Regions from separate parts of the Homo sapiens genome. Here region 1 is linked to region 2. The links come from fine-mapping of genetic effects on gene expression. Tissue or cell type: whole blood. Region 2 holds a variant in brackets; the other region holds the start of a gene. All regions are shown on one strand. Distances are from middle to middle.

Region 1 (8,100 bases), 140 kb after region 2:
GGATGTGTACTGCTTCCTCTTCACGGATCTGCTGTTGGTGACCAAAGCAGTGAAGAAGGCAGAGAGGACCAGGGTCATCAGGCCACCCCTGCTCGTGGACAAGATTGTGTGCCGGGAGCTACGGGACCCTGGTAAGGAGCCCTGGTCCCCTGTTCCTGGTCAGGGGCTGTGATGGGTGGGGGCCATCGTCTCTGCTGACACTGACTTGGGCCTTCCCTAACCAGGGTCCTTCCTCCTTATCTACCTGAATGAGTTTCACAGTGCTGTAGGGGCCTACACGTTCCAGGCCAGTGGCCAGGCCTTGTGCCGTGGCTGGGTGGACACCATTTACAATGCCCAGGTGAGTGCAGAGTAGTGAGTGGGTGGGCAAGGCAGATTAGGGAGATGCTGGTCACAACCCATTCTGTCCCATGTACCCCAACCTTGCCTGCAGAACCAGCTGCAACAGCTGCGTGCACAGGAGCCCCCAGGCAGTCAGCAGCCCCTGCAGAGCCTGGAAGAGGAGGAGGATGAGCAGGAGGAGGAAGAGGAGGAGGAGGAGGAGGAGGAGGAAGGCGAGGACAGTGGCACTTCAGCTGCCAGCTCCCCTACCATCATGCGGAAAAGCAGCGGCAGCCCCGACTCTCAGCACTGGTACGTCTGCTCATGACCACCCAGCAGGTCAAACCAGGACAAGTACTCTAGCCCAGGACTCCTGAAGGCCCAGCCACGCTCCCTTCCTCCCAATGGCCTCTTGTCATGAACACTGTGGGAGCGGGGCTCTGTCTCCCCCAGAGTCCGGGTGGGGAGGGCAGACACCTTTCCATGTGCTGCCAGCCCTGATCCATTCGTGGTAGCTGCCTGGGGTGCTGTGCTGAGGATCCTTAGGGCAGATCCAGCCTTGGCAGGGAAGAGTGCTGGGCTCGCTACTGAGGTCTGTTGTGGGCACTGGAGCTGGAAGATCTGCCACACCTGCCACATGCTGCCATCTCTGAGCCTCCAGCCCCAGGAGGGCAGAGGGTATAAACCACCGTGCATTGCCCAGCCTGGGGCTGCCTCAGGCCATCTAGGTTTCATGGCCTGGGCTGACTCTGCTCCTGGCCCCACAGTGCCTCAGATGGCTCCACGGAGACCCTGGCCATGGTTGTGGTAGAGCCTGGGGACACGCTGTCCTCCCCCGAGTTCGACAGCGGTCCTTTCAGCTCCCAGTCTGATGAGACCTCTCTCAGCACCACTGCCTCATCTGCCACGCCCACCAGTGAGCTGCTGCCCCTGGGTCCGGTGGACGGCCGCTCCTGCTCCATGGACTCTGCCTACGGCACCCTCTCCCCAACCTCCTTACAAGACTTTGTGGCCCCAGGCCCAATGGCAGAGCTAGTGCCTCGGGCCCCAGAGTCCCCACGAGTTCCTTCCCCTCCACCCTCGCCCCGTCTCCGCCGCCGCACCCCTGTCCAGCTGTTGAGCTGCCCGCCCCACCTGCTCAAGTCTAAGTCCGAGGCCAGCCTCCTCCAGCTGCTGGCAGGGGCTGGCACCCATGGGACACCCTCTGCCCCCAGCCGCAGCCTGTCAGAGCTCTGCCTGGCTGTTCCAGCCCCAGGTATTAGGACTCAGGGCTCCCCTCAGGAAGCTGGGCCCAGCTGGGATTGCCGAGGGGCCCCTAGCCCTGGCAGCGGTCCTGGGCTAGTCGGCTGCCTGGCCGGGGAACCTGCAGGCTCCCACAGGAAGAGGTGTGGAGACCTGCCCTCGGGGGCCTCTCCCAGGGTCCAGCCTGAGCCCCCACCAGGGGTCTCTGCCCAGCACAGGAAGCTGACCCTGGCCCAGCTCTACCGAATCAGGACCACCCTGCTGCTTAACTCCACGCTCACTGCCTCGTGAGTGGCCTGGACTGGGGTAGGGCAGGTGGCTCAGGGCACTGGCATGGGGGCCCACTCATGCCTGGGAGCATCGCATTTGGGGAGGGTCATGGCGGAGGGAGCCTGAACCCTGCCCAGTGTCTGGGCGCAGGGGGCTGTGGTGGGCAGCAGTGAAGGGGCCTGAGGAGTGCCGTGGGGAAGAGAGGGTGACCAGAGCCACTCTGAATGGCGTCAGCCAAAGAAGGACTCTGTCCCCTCCCCACCCTGTAGGGAGGTCTGAGCAGAGGGAGGCCCCCAAGAGTGCCATTGACCAAGAGACAGCAGACAGCCTGCCTCCTGGGGCGTGCCGGCACCTGCTTCAGCTACTGCCTCCTGTATGCATGAGCCGGATGCTGGGCAGGATCCCTGCCTACGCCCGGGCCCGATTTGCGCTTTGCCGGACTGGATGGAGTGGAGGAGGCCCAGGCCACAGTACCACCCCACCTGCCCAGGCAGCCCCTCGTCACCTACTCCCCGAAGTTACCAGCTCAGCTCGAGTCTTCAGGGCTGGGCTCCTAGGCTGCCCATCCTACTTCTACCCTCACTGGCCTCCAGTGGGATTCACTCCTGCCCTGCCCCCACCTTCCCAGTCCCACAGGCCACCCCTGGCTTGGGCTGGGTTCTGTGAAGTTACGTATTTATTGAGCTTTTGGTTCTTTTATAAAGACTTGTCTAGACTCCACTGGGAAGAGTCCTTTGCTTTGGGGCCCAGTGACTCGGGGCACTTGAGTTCAGGGCGGCCTCCTTGTGTTCCTGTGCTCCTCCACTTGCCACGGATGGGCCACGGATGGAGCTTGCCATGGGAAGCACTGGGAAGTAATGGGGTGTGGGGTGCCACCAGACCAACACCCCCAGACTTCCCCACCTTCAGCCACCATCAGAGCCTCTCCCCAGGTGCCCCCCGGGGATTCAGGGCTGAATCTGCCCAGTTCCCACACTCAGGCCAGCCCTCTTGGGAAGGTGGGTCCTCCATGGGGGTCCCTTCAGGAACTTTTTTTTTTTTTTTAATACAGAGTCTCACTCTGTCACCTAGGTTGGAGTGCAGTGGTGTGATGTCGGCTCACTGCAACCTCTGCCTCCCGGGTTCAAACGATTCTCCTGCCCCAGCCACTCTAGTAGCTGGAACTGCAGGTGTGCACCACCACGCCGGGCTAGTTTTTGTATTTTAAGTAGAGACGGCATTTCACCATATTGGTCAGGCTGGTCTCGAACTCCTGACCCCAAGTGTTCCGCCCGCCTCTGCCTCCCATAGTGCTAGAATTACAGGCCTGAGCTACTGCGCTTGGCCCCTTGCGGTACTTTTGGCCCAACCTCCTCCATGGCTGGGGACGCGGAGGCCGAGAGAGAAGTCACTTGCCCTGGCTCTACCTTGAAGTGGTTCTCAGGGTTGGGGCGAGAGTCGGGGTGGGGACCGAGATGCAGCTCTATCCTGTGCCCCTGGTCGCAGCAGGCAGCCCAGCGCTTCGCGTGTTCTACTTGGCCTGTCCGCTGCCGCCTAATGAGCTCAGGTCTAGGCCGAGCAGAGGGGGCACCTGGTCGGACTCGGTTGGGCTCGGGCGGCCCCGCCTCCCCCCGCCCGCCAGGCGGGCCCTTCTCGACGGCGCGGGGCGGGCCCTGCGGGCGCGGGGCTGAAGGCGGAACCACGACGGGCAGAGAGCACGGAGCCGGGAAGCCCCTGGGCGCCCGTCGGAGGGCTATGGAGCAGCGGCCGCGGGGCTGCGCGGCGGTGGCGGCGGTGAGTTGAGACGCAGGAGGCTAGGGGCAGCTTTGAGCCCTGTCCCAAGAGCCTCGGTGAAGGAAGGGGCCCCGGGCGCGTCTCCACTCCAAGCCTCACTGGGGGCTGGGTTGGCCGCCCTTTCCGATCTCGTTAAAGGCTCCTCCAGGGCGTAGCCCTTCCACTGAGAGGAAACCCCTCCCAGGAGGGTCTGGGGGCCCCAGGCAGAGCATTATCAGTGTCCCTCCCCCAACAGAAAGCATGGGTGGGGGTGGGGGCGCTGCTGGATTCCTGCTCTGGTGGAGGGGAAACTTGTGAGGGGCTGGTAAGCGCCCCCTCCGAAGCCTGGTGTGTGCGCGGGGGGAAGGAAGTTAGTTTCCTCTCCACCCATGGGCACCCCTTCTGCCCGGGGCCTGGGAAGTGGGCTGCTCTGTGGGCAAATGCTGGGGCCTCTGAAATGGAGGAGACGCAGCAGGGAGAGGCCCCACGTGGGCAGCTGCGCTGAGAGTCAGCAGCACCTGTCCCCCAGGCGCTCCTCCTGGTGCTGCTGGGGGCCCGGGCCCAGGGCGGCACTCGTAGCCCCAGGTGTGACTGTGCCGGTGACTTCCACAAGAAGATTGGTCTGTTTTGTTGCAGAGGCTGCCCAGCGGGTAAGTGGCCACAGGGGTGGGAGAGGCATGGGGCAGGCAGGGCTGGAGAGGTGGCGGGCAGGCCCGGGAGGTAAGAGGAGGCTGGCAGGGGAGGTAGGGGTAGGCTGACAGAGAAGTAGGGAGCTGGAGAGAAAGAGGGAGGGAGGGCAGGGTGGGAAGCAGGTCGGGGGTTGCTGGGCAGCCCCTCTGCCTGCCTGACCCCTGCCTGGTTCCACAGGGCACTACCTGAAGGCCCCTTGCACGGAGCCCTGCGGCAACTCCACCTGCCTTGTGTGTCCCCAAGACACCTTCTTGGCCTGGGAGAACCACCATAATTCTGAATGTGCCCGCTGCCAGGCCTGTGATGAGCAGGGTGAGGGGCTTCTCAGTGCTTGGCAGGGAGTTCCTAAGGACAGGCCTTTCTGAAGGAAGTGGCTGGCTCGGGCCCAAACTTGGGGTGTGAGGGTCCTGCACCCACCCTTGCCAGAACCCTCCACCCTGATCCTCCTTCAGGGTGCCCTTGCCCCTTCTCTCTTCCTGGTGACCTTCCCATCTCTCCATGTGCCTTGGCCTCTGGTCGGCCTTAATCTCTGAGCTTCTCTCTTTTTTAGGGTAGCCCTGTACCTGTCTGTCTTTCGCCTATTTCTGTCTCCATTATCTTGGGATAATGCCTCTGCCTCTCCATGGGAGCCTTTGGCCCTGACTAACTCTCCACTCCCCATCTCCCTGCACCCCCACCAGCCTCCCAGGTGGCGCTGGAGAACTGTTCAGCAGTGGCCGACACCCGCTGTGGCTGTAAGCCAGGCTGGTTTGTGGAGTGCCAGGTCAGCCAATGTGTCAGCAGTTCACCCTTCTACTGCCAACCATGCCTAGACTGCGGGGCCCTGCACCGCCACACACGGCTACTCTGTGAGTACCCCCACCCAGGGCTCTCTACTCCCAGACCCCCTTCTCCCTGCCTGACCCACTCCTGTCCCATGGTGACGCATGCCTCTCCTGGATTGCAGGTTCCCGCAGAGATACTGACTGTGGGACCTGCCTGCCTGGCTTCTATGAACATGGCGATGGCTGCGTGTCCTGCCCCACGTAATTCCTAGCTGTCGTGGGATGGAGGGAAGGGCGGCTGGGAGCAGAGCAGGGGCCTGGGGTGGGGCAGGTGCTGCTGGTTCAGGAATAGGAAGAGGGGATAGGGAGGAGGGAGCCTTGGCCCTGTGATGGGTGGGCCCCACTTCAGGCAAACTTAGATGGCAAAAGAGCAATCTGGATCCGCCTTAGCCAGATACATAAGGGTATTTGCCTTCACTTTCAGCCAGCATTCCCCCCAGCGATCCTAGCCAGATATTACAGATGATTTGTCACTTACACAGAGAGTCACATTGATATAGCTTTAAAACTTGGGCTGAAGGAGGTTGAGGCTGCAGTGAGCTATGATCGTGCCACTGCACTTCAGCCTGGGCAACAGAGCGAGACCTATTAAATAAATAAATAAATATTAAATCTATTAAATATTAAATATTAAATCTATTAAATAAATAAATACAAAGGGCTGAGAGTCAGGACTGTGCTGCTAGTTCTCTAGGGGATCTTGGGCAAGTGCAGAGAATTCGCGTCTCTGATGTGTGGTGTCCCTTTCTCAACATGGGATGTTAGCAGCTAATTCACAGGCCTTTGATCAGAGGTAAGGGACTTTCTGTAGCTATTCAAGTCTTTTTTTTTTTTTTTTTTTTTTTTTTTTGAGATGGAGACTTGCTCTGTCACCCAGGCTGGAGTGCAGTGGCACGATCTTGGCTCACTACAACCTCTGCTGCCTGGGTTCAAGTGATTCTCCTGCCTCAGCCTCCCAAGTAGCTGGGACTACAGGAGCCCACCACCACCCCCGGCTAATTTTTTGTATTTTTAGTAGAGACGGGGTTTCACCGTGTTAGCCAAGATGGTCTTGATCACCTGACCTCGTGATCCACCCGCCTTGGCCTCCCAAAGTGCTGGGATTACAGGCATGAGCCACCGCGCCCGGCCTCCATTCAAGTCTTTATTGAATATCTGCTATGTTCTACACACTGTTCTAGGTGCTGGGGATGCAACAGGGGACAAAATAGGCAAAATCCCTGTCCTTTTGGGGTTGACATTCTAGTGACTCTTCATGTAGTCTAGAAGAAGCTCAGTGAATAGTGTCTGTGGTTGTTACCAGGGACACAATGACAGGAACATTCTTGGGTAGAGTGAGAGGCCTGGGGAGGGAAGGGTCTCTAGGATGGAGCAGATGCTGGGCAGTCTTAGGGAGCCCCTCCTGGCATGCACCCCCTCATCCCTCAGGCCACCCCCGTCCCTTGCAGGAGCACCCTGGGGAGCTGTCCAGAGCGCTGTGCCGCTGTCTGTGGCTGGAGGCAGAGTAGGTGGTGTGCTGGGAATGCGAGTGGGAGAACTGGGATGGACCGAGGGGAGGCGGGTGAGGAGGGGGGCAACCACCCAACACCCACCAGCTGCTTTCAGTGTTCTGGGTCCAGGTGCTCCTGGCTGGCCTTGTGGTCCCCCTCCTGCTTGGGGCCACCCTGACCTACACATACCGCCACTGCTGGCCTCACAAGCCCCTGGTTACTGGTAAGTACACACACCCACACACGCACCCAGAAGCCTGGGGTCAGGATGGGTAGCCCAGAGTCTACTCAACCCTGATACAGAAGGGGAAACTGAGGCAGGGAGTGTGGGGTGCAGAGGAACCCTAGAGGAGCTGTACCAGCACCCAGGTCCAGGAGGCTTGCCTGGTGGCTGACCGCAATCTCTCTGTGTCTGTCAGCAGATGAAGCTGGGATGGAGGCTCTGACCCCACCACCGGTAAGAACCTCACTGTGTGATTCTGGGCTGCCTTCTGGAGCTGGAAGATCAAGCCTTACTATGATCCCTGGAGCTTGGCACGCGGCCAGCACCGGGTAGCCCTAGTGGACAGAGGTGTTGGGAGCAGAGTCATCAGTGGATGAGACCAGCACAGTGCCTGCCCTCAAGGGGTGCTCAGTCAGCTGGAGTTCAGATTCGTACACAGGAGCTAACAGTTCAATGGAAGGAGAGCCCCATGGTGCTGGGGGACAAGAGGAAGGAGGCGGGGGCAGGGGACTCAAGGCAGAAGCAAGAGTTCTGCTGGGCTACAGTGAGAGCAGGGCCAACTGTGGGAGGTGTCATTGCGGGGGTGTCTGCTGACTGAACCAGGGACTGTCCCCTCCTGGAGAGGCACTGCGGGTAAGGGGCCTTACTTGGCAAGCAGGGCTGACCTGGGGCCCCTCTTGGCTTCCAGGCCACCCATCTGTCACCCTTGGACAGCGCCCACACCCTTCTAGCACCTCCTGACAGCAGTGAGAAGATCTGCACCGTCCAGTTGGTGGGTAACAGCTGGACCCCTGGCTACCCCGAGACCCAGGAGGCGCTCTGCCCGCAGGTGACATGGTCCTGGGACCAGTTGCCCAGCAGAGCTCTTGGTAAGGGACATCAGTGGCCTGAGGCCTTGACCCCATTCTCCTGTCTGCGGTGGGAAGTTGTGGTTTCACAACGTGTTCCCTTTCTGCCCCCTAACTGACGGAGTCCGCCCTATGCCCTGACCCACCGGATCCAGCGGGCTTCAGCCCTGGGGTACCCGCACGAACGCCCCTGACTCTGCCTCCCGACCGCGGCCCACGTACCCCAATTGGCTCTCTCTGGCCCTGCCCCAGGCCCCGCTGCTGCGCCCACACTCTCGCCAGAGTCCCCAGCCGGCTCGCCAGCCATGATGCTGCAGCCGGGCCCGCAGCTCTACGACGTGATGGACGCGGTCCCAGCGCGGCGCTGGAAGGAGTTCGTGCGCACGCTGGGGCTGCGCGAGGCAGAGATCGAAGCCGTGGAGGTGGAGATCGGCCGCTTC
Region 2 (8,100 bases):
TTGCCAAGGCTGTTCTGGAACTCCTGGGCTCAAGGGATCCTCCCACCCAGGCCTCCCAAATTGTAGAGTTTACAGTCCTGAGCTATCTTGCCTGCCTGGAGTGAATACCCACTCTGAGCAAAAGTTATCACTTGAGTCTGAAAATCTGTCCCCTGACTCAATCCATGTTTGGGATTTTCCTTCCTTGATGTAACCAAGTAGTCCAATATAGGCCTGTGAATTCTAAGCTCAGTTTTGTCAACAAGTCCATTATTCTGAGTAGGTCCTTCATTTCCAATTTGAGAGTTTATTCTTCTTTCTTTTTTGAGACAGTTTCACTCTTGTTGCCCCTGCTGGAGTACAGTGGTGTGATCCTGGTTCACCACAACCTCTATCTCCCGGGTTCAAGCGATTCTCCTGCCTCAGCCTCCTGAGAGCTGGGATTACAGGCATGCGCCACAACACCCGGCTAATTTTTTGTATTTTTAGTAGAGACGGGGTTTCACCATGTTGGACAGGCTGGTCTTGAACTCTTGGCCTCATGTGATCTGCCTGTCTCAGCCTCCCAAAGTGCTGGGATTACAGGCATAAGCCACCGCACCCAGATATTTATTGAATATGTTTTTAGTAAACAGTAATTTTTAGTACATAGATATGACCTGTACCTTCCTGCTACTCCAGTGAAAGAGAAAACTTCAAGAAAAAGGACCTCTTTTGTCTTTCCATTTCCCTTAGAAATACAGCCCTTTGGAGGAAATTTAGACATTAATGTTTAGCATCCTTTCCCTAAATTCAGAAAAAGGACTATACCACTTGTAGTTGACCCAAACGATCTCATAATATGTAGCTGTGGAGTAATAAAGTTGATTTTCTCACGCCTGTAATCCCAGCACTTTGGGAGGCCGAGGCGGGCGAATCACGAGGTCAAGAGATCAAGACCATCCTGTCCAACATGTTGAAACCCTGTCTGTACTAAAAATACAAAAATTATCTGGGTGTGGTGGCACGCATCTGTAGTCCCAGCTACTCCGGAGGCTGAGGCAGGAGAATGGCGTGAACCCGGAAGGCAGAGGTTGCAGTGAGCGGAGATCATGCCACTGCACTGCAGCCTGGCGACAGAGTCAGACTCCGTCTCAAAAAACACAGTTGATTTTCTGTGACAGGATTAGGTTTGTTCAGTATCTCCCGTTTTTTTCATAGGTGTATTGTACTACTCCTGGGCTGCAGGGGGCGAATCTGAAATTCCTTGATTAGTTCAAGAACATTCACCACAGTAGCCAGATCCTTGGAGTCTATGATTCTTTGTTTTCTGCTAAAAACAAAAAACAAACTAATTATACCAACTGCTGAATACTAATTCTCAGATGATTATAGTTACTTAGGAGAGGAGGAAAAAAGCCAACGTTAGCACAGGTTGCAACAAGTTAAAAATACTAAGAATACCATGGTTTCCCGGTAAGTAACTTGAGAATGTGGTTATTTTAATTGAGTTACCAAATATAGCTTCACCTTCCTAAATCTCAGCAGCTACACTGCATCCACTTGAGGGAACATACAAGAAAGCTTTCTGTCTCCCATTTTAGCTCTGTGCTTTAGTGCAGGTGTGAGCATAACCAAAGGTTTGCTTTTCAAATGTTTCAGCTTTTTGTTCAGCTTAATAGTTTTTGTTTTTGTTTTTCTGAGACGGAGTCTTGCTCTGTCACCCAGGCTTGAGTGCAGTGGCGCGATCTGGGCTCACTGAAACCTCTGCTTCCCGGGTTCTAGAGATTCTCCTGCCTCAGCCTCCCAAGTAGCTGGGATTACAGGCGCGTGCCACCGCGCCCGGTAAATTTTTATTTATTTATTTTTTATTTATTTATTTATTTATTTTTTAATTTTTTTTTTTTTTTTGAGACGGAGTCTTGCTCTGTCGCCAGGCTGGAGTGCAGTAGGGTGATCTCGGCTCACTGCAACCTCTGCCACCCCCGTTCAATCAATTCCGCTGTCTCAGCCTCCCGAGTAGCTGGGACTAGAGGCGCACGCCACCACGCCCAACTAATTTTTTGTATTTTAGTAGAGACAGGGTTTCACCATGTTGGCCAAGATGGTCTCCATCTTCTGACCTTGTGATCTGCCCATTTTGGCCTCCCAAAGTGCTGGGATTACAGGTGTGAGCCACGGCACCCAGCCTAATTTTTTATATTTTTAGTAGAGACAGAGTTTCACCATGTTGGCCAGGCTAGTCTCAAACTCCTGACCTCAGGTGATCTGACTGCCTCGGCCTCCCAAAGTGCTGGGATTACAGGCCTGAGCCACTGCGCCCAGCCTTTTTTTTTTTTTTTTTTTTTAGCCCGGAGTGCAGTGGTTCGAACACGGCTCACTATAGTCACTGCACCCTAGGCCTCCTGGGCTCAGGTGATCCCCCTGCCTCAGCCTTCCTAGTAGCTGGGACTACAGGCATGCACCAGCATATCCAGCTTATTTTGTTTTTTGTTTTTGTTTTTTGTTTTTTTGAGGCGGAGTCTTGCTGTGTCGCCCAGGCTGGAGTGCAGTGGCACGATCTCGGCTCACTGCAAGCTCCGCCTTCTGGGTTCATGCCATTGTCCTGCCTCAGCCTCCCGACTAGCTGGGACCACAGGCGCCCGCCACCACGCCCGGCTAATTTTTTATTTTTTTAGAAAGATGGGGTTTCACTGCGTTAGCCAGGATGGTCTTGATCTCCTGACCTCGTGATCTGCCCTCCTCGGCCTCCCAAAGTGCTGGTTGTTTTTGTATTTTTTGTAGAGAAGGGATTTCACCACATGGCCCAGGCTGATCTTGAACTCCTGGTCTCAAACGATCTCCCCACCTCGGCCTCCCAGAGTGCTGGGATTATGGGCATGAGCCACCACGCCCAGCCCAGTATATTCTTAGGAATTCTTTTTACCCTCTGTTTTCTGCCTTGCTCACTTCCGTTTCCAGGAGATGGGAAAAAAGTGAAAATTCCACAAAATCTTCTTTTCAGCTTTTAGTAACTTGAAAACTGTATGAATATGTGTGTGAATCATTTGAAATCATTAATAATTTATAGACCATATATTGTCAGTGTTTCACACAGTGAATCTGACCTACAGATAGAAGAATCAAATGAGTTTCTTGAGTTCATACTGGTAGAATACAAAGGTAATAGCTAAGCTGGACATGGTGGCTTACACCTGTAACCCCAGCACTTTGGGAGGTCGAGGCAGGTGGATCACGAGGTCAGGAGTTAGAGACCAGCCTTGCCAACACAGTGACACATCGTCTCTACTAAATATAAAAATTAGCTGGGCATGGTGGCGCACACCTGTAGTCCCAGCTACTTGGGAGGCTGAGGTAGAAGAATCGCTTGAACCTGGGAGGCAGAGGTTGTGGTGAGCCGAAATTGCGCCACTGCACTCCAGCCTGGGCAACAGAGCAAGACTCTGTCTCCAAAAAAGAAAAAAGAAAGTTAATAGCTAAAGGCTGGGGTGCTGTGGCTCACGCCTGTAATCACAGAACACTGGGAGGCCAAGGGAGATGGATCATTTGAGGTCAGGAGTTGGAGACTAGCGTGGCCAACATGGCAAAACCACATCTCTACCAAAAAAATACAAAAATTAGCCAGGCATGGTGACAGGTGCCTGTAATCCCACCTACTCTCCTGAGGCAGGAGAATGGCTTGAACACGGGAGGTGGAGGTTGCAGTGAGCCGAGATCATGCTACTGCACTCCAGTCTGGGGAATAGAGCAAGACTCTGTTTCAAAAAAAAAAGATAATAACTAATACTATATGTCAAACACTGTTTAAATGTTTTTACTTACCCTATCTCATTTACATATGTAAATGCATTTAATAAATAGAGAATAGCGCAACATTCCTTAAAGAAAAAATGTTTAGATTGGGCACAATGGCTCATGCCTGTAATCCCAGCGGAAGCTGAGGTAGGCAGATCACCTGAGGTCAGGAGTTCAAGACCAGCCTGGCCAACATGGTGAAATGCCATCTCTACAAAAAATAGAAAAATTAGCCAGGTGTTGTGGTGCGTGCCTGTGATCCTAGCTACTCGAGAGGCTGAGGCAGGAGAATCACTGGAACTCAGGAGGCGGAGGTTGCAGTGAGCTGAGGTTGCGCCACTGTACTCCAACCTAGGCGACACAGGGAGACTTCGTCTCAAAAGAAAAAAAAAAAGGAGTTATATATGGTAAGTGCATTATACCTTAGAAAACCTGGAATCTGAAAAAATCAGAGTGTATGATATGATACAAGAAAAGGCACAATAGCTGTGGACGTAATCAAGGCTAAGGAGTGTGTTCCTAAATATTCTTAAAGAAAAAAAAAGAATAACAGCTGCTCTTTTTTTTTTTTTTTTGAGACGGAGTCTTGCTCTGTCCTCCATGCTTGAGTCCCATGATCTCAGCTCATTGTGACCTCCGCCTCCTGGGTTAAAGCGATTCTCCTGCCTCAGCCTCTGGAGTAGCTGGGATTATAGATGTGCACCACCGCGCTTGGCTAATTTTTGTATTTTTAGTAGAGATGGAGTTTCACCACGTTGGCCAGGCTGTAAACAGCCACTTTTAAAATGACCTTAGGGTCTGGCATGGTGGCTGATGCCTGTAATCTCAGCACTTTGGCTCAGCACCAAGACTGGAGGATTGCTTGAGTCCAGGAGTTTAAGACCAACCTGGGTAACACAGCGAAACCCCGTCTCTACAAAAAATTTAAAAAATTAACCAAGCGTGTTGGCTCACGCCTGTAGTCCCAGCTCCTGGGGAGGCTGAGGTAGGAGGATCACCTGAGCCTGGGAGGCAGAGGTTGCAGTTA[G/A]CTGAGATTGTGCCACTGCACTCCAGCCTGGGCAACAGAGGGAGATCCTGTCTCAATAAAAAAGGTAACATGGCCAGACCAGGTGGCTCATGCCTGTAATCCCAGCACTTTGGGAGGCCGAGGCGGGTGGATCATCTGAGGTCAGGAGTTTGAGACCAGCCTGACCAACATGGAGAAACCCCATCTTTACTAAAAATACAAAATTAGCCAAGAGTGGTGGTGCATGCCTGTAATCCCAGCCACTCAGGAAGGCTGAGGCAGGAGAATTGCTTTAACCCGGGAGGCAGAGGTTGCGGTGAGCCGAGATCGCGCCACTGCACTGCAGCCTGGGTGACACAGCGAGACTCTGTCTCAAGAAAAAAAAGGTAACGTAATTTTAGTCACCTCTTGCTCTGTCTGCCTTAAATTAGAATTTAAATACCAAAATTAAGTTGTTTTTTAAAATAATAACTATTTGTTAAATCACATCACACATTAAATCACTTTTTAATTTGTAGCCTCAGAATGTTCAGGTAAATCACATTATCTTAAATTGCTTAGGCAATGGCCATTTTTGTAATTTTAATTTTTTTTTTTTTGAGATGAAGTCTCACTCTGTCGCCCAGGCTGGAGTGCAGTAGCGTGATCTCAGCTCATTGTAACCTCCTCCTCCCGGGTTCAAGCTTGAAGTGTTTGAACCTGGAGGCAGAGGTTGCAGTGAGCTCAGATCGTGCCAGTGCACTACAGAGTGAGACTCCGTCTCAAAAAACAAACAACATGTCATCTAGGTGGTTATGTTCATTTTGTTTTTGCTTGCCTGCATTCTCTTTCTGTACTACACGTACATTATCTGTTAATGTTAATTTAAGTTCAAAGTAAAATTAAGAATTCATATCTTGAGAAAAGAAGTATTTCATTGATAACCGGGGCCTACCAGGCATGTGAAACCATGTATATATATAGATAATTCAACAAAGGAATGTGGTGAGAAAAGAAAGGAACCGATTTAGACCTATCAGCTGTGTTAGGAATTTTGAATAACCTACTAACCCAGGCATGCTATTTAGCTCTTTCTTTTTTTCAGGGGTGGGGCAGGCAGAGTGGGAGCAGTGGAACAATGACAGCTCACTGTCATCTGGGCTTATGTGATCTTCCCACTTCAGCCTCCCAAGTAGCTGAGACTAAAGGTGCATGCCACCACGCCTGGCCAATTTGAAAACTTTTTGTTGAGACAAAATATTGGGTCCCACTATGTTGCCCAGGCTGGTCTCAAACTCCTGGCCTCAAGAAATCTTGCCCCAGCCTCAGCCTCCGCGTAGCTGGGATTACAGGCGTGCGCCACAGCACCCAGCTAATTATAATTGTTTTATTTTTAGTAGAGACAGGGTTTCGCCATATTGGCCAGGCTGGTCTCGAACTCGCTACCTCAGGTGATCCACCCACCTCGGCCTCCCAAAGTGCTGGGATTACAGGCGTGAGCCACGGCGCCTGGCCGAAAATGTTAACTTAATAAATTTTTTTAGGCATATGAATACATATAAATCAATTTGGGTCATACAATGAGTAATCTGATTTTTCGCTTTATAGCTCAAACATCTTTCCATTTCAATAAATACATCATTATTCTTCAAGGCTACATAGTAAGACTGAAATATGATGTTTAAAAATCCCTGTTATTGGGAATACAGAAAAACCGTACTCAATCCTCAACTATGGAAACATTATTGATTTAATCACTGGACTTACGCAAGATGGGTAAGCTGACCCAGGGGACGGGAGTTCTTTTCCCTACAAACATTCCACTTCCTGGCTACTCAGCCTTTCTTGTCACAAAGCCTGTGCAAGGAAGCTATTGGCCCTGCTCCTGGGCCCAGGAATGCTGCCGCTGCCTTGAATAGCTGTGTGAACAGTCCTTCTATGGGCAACAGGCGGCCCGCCTGGGTACCTGAATGTTTTCTGATTTGGGCCTGTGCTGCCCATGCTCACCCTGAAATTCAGACCAGATGCATTCTTATGGCAAAATGACGTGAAACTCTTAAGTAGAAGAGAAAGCCTGCGGTTCTCATTTCAGAGGTGGAATAAAAACAAAATGTCTTCTGGAAACGCTACGCGGCCCTAGACCTCGCTGGAACCAGGAAATGATAGCCAGCTCCCATGCGCGTGGCCTGCTCTGGGACCCACGTGGGCGGGCGCCTTCCTCAGGAATGCGTTCTCAAAGGCCCACCGGTGTAGGGGGGCTGGAAAACAGCACAAACCCAAGTGTTCTCTGCAAAGCAGCAGTCCTGGTGGTGAAATAGGGGTCTTTTCTAAAACTGAGCAAAGCCTACCTTCCACTGAGGAAAAAATGGCCTCCAAGGGAGGGCTCTTTTTCCCCTACAAGTGACATTCAAAGTGGTGCTGTGTCTATCGGAACTAAAATAAGGGCGATTCCTTCTTTCACCATTCCCCACCGCAGTACAAGTGACGGCGGGACTGTGCTTAGTGGCGTCATCTAGTTTCAAGGCGGTCTCCTATCTGACTTTGAGCCCTCGCTCTTTATACCCAGTTACCCTCTCGTGGAGTCCGAGCAGCTGCTTCAGGGAGGCCCGGGAGCCCCTAGGGCGGGCAGCCCCGGAGCCTGCAGCTGCGACGCAGACTCGGAAACTACAACTGCGCGTGAAGCCGACTAAAGTTAACGCCTGTGTGATTGAGTCAGAAGCTCCTTCAGGAACACAGGAGTGGGGCCGACTCCTGGAATCCGGCCCCGGGTCGCTTATAAATGCGCCAAGAAAAAAACGTCACCGAAAAACTTTATACGCGTTCTTGCTTTGGTCCAGAATGGTAAAAAGCCTATCCTTTGAGTGTGTCCCGTGATGGGGTTAACTAGCAACCCTTGAAACTAGTGGAACTCAAAAGCAAAACAAAAAGCCATTGTACCCAGCCGCCCCGGGACCTGGGCCGGCGCCCTTGGGAAGTCTGGCGTGAAAGGAGGGGTGGCTTTGGTTTCAGGGCCGAGCTCGCCTCTCCCGGGTTGGGTTCAGCAGCCGGGCCGGGTGGGTCGTGGGCAACCCCGGGAGGCCCCCGGTCCCGGCGCGCGGCGAGGCCGCCCTCGGACCTGGCACTTGTCACTCGCTGTCCCCGGCCCGGGCGTCAGCGGGGAGACGCAGAAGGGCGGAGGGAGGGAGCCGGCCGCGGACAGCGGTGACTCAGCCTGCGGAGCCGGGGGCGGGCGCCGCGCGGGGGACAGGCGAGCCCGCGCTCGCGGGGGGCGGTGGCGCCCGGCACAGAGGGGTTAAGGGGGCGGTGCAGACGTCTCCCCGCCCATCCCGCCCCTCGAGAGCCGCGGCGCCCCGCCCTATTTA

What was found. PIP is the estimated chance that this variant, and not a neighbour inherited with it, causes the effect.
Region 1: TNFRSF25 starts here. The variant in region 2 is fine-mapped to the expression of TNFRSF25 in whole blood (INTERVAL, PIP above 0.99).

What each region holds. Positions count from the first base shown.
Region 1 is chr1:6,461,575-6,469,674 of GRCh38, reverse strand. It overlaps TNFRSF25 (TNF receptor superfamily member 25), which reads left to right and starts at 3,502. Exons shown (of 10, transcript NM_003790.3): 1 at 3,502-3,606; 2 at 4,115-4,235; 3 at 4,453-4,587; 4 at 4,956-5,123; 5 at 5,222-5,300; 6 at 6,548-6,603; 7 at 6,705-6,812; 8 at 7,009-7,046; 9 at 7,501-7,681; 10 at 7,913-8,100. The coding sequence starts at 3,568. PLEKHG5 (pleckstrin homology and RhoGEF domain containing G5) reads left to right here. Exons shown (of 21, transcript NM_020631.6): 17 at 1-131; 18 at 225-340; 19 at 434-633; 20 at 1,089-1,850; 21 at 2,103-2,553. The coding sequence ends at 2,112. RefSeq lists an enhancer at 2,733-3,681.
Region 2 is chr1:6,602,894-6,610,993 of GRCh38, reverse strand. LOC107984913 (a long non-coding RNA gene) reads left to right here. Exons shown (of 2, transcript XR_001737882.3): 2 at 6,347-7,547. Among named protein-coding and RNA genes, the nearest start is that of KLHL21, 4.1 kb to the right of the region's middle. RefSeq lists silencers at 6,407-6,755, 7,720-8,100 and enhancers at 7,170-7,319, 7,360-7,519, 7,540-7,629. The variant G/A (reference allele first, on the strand shown) is at 4,781.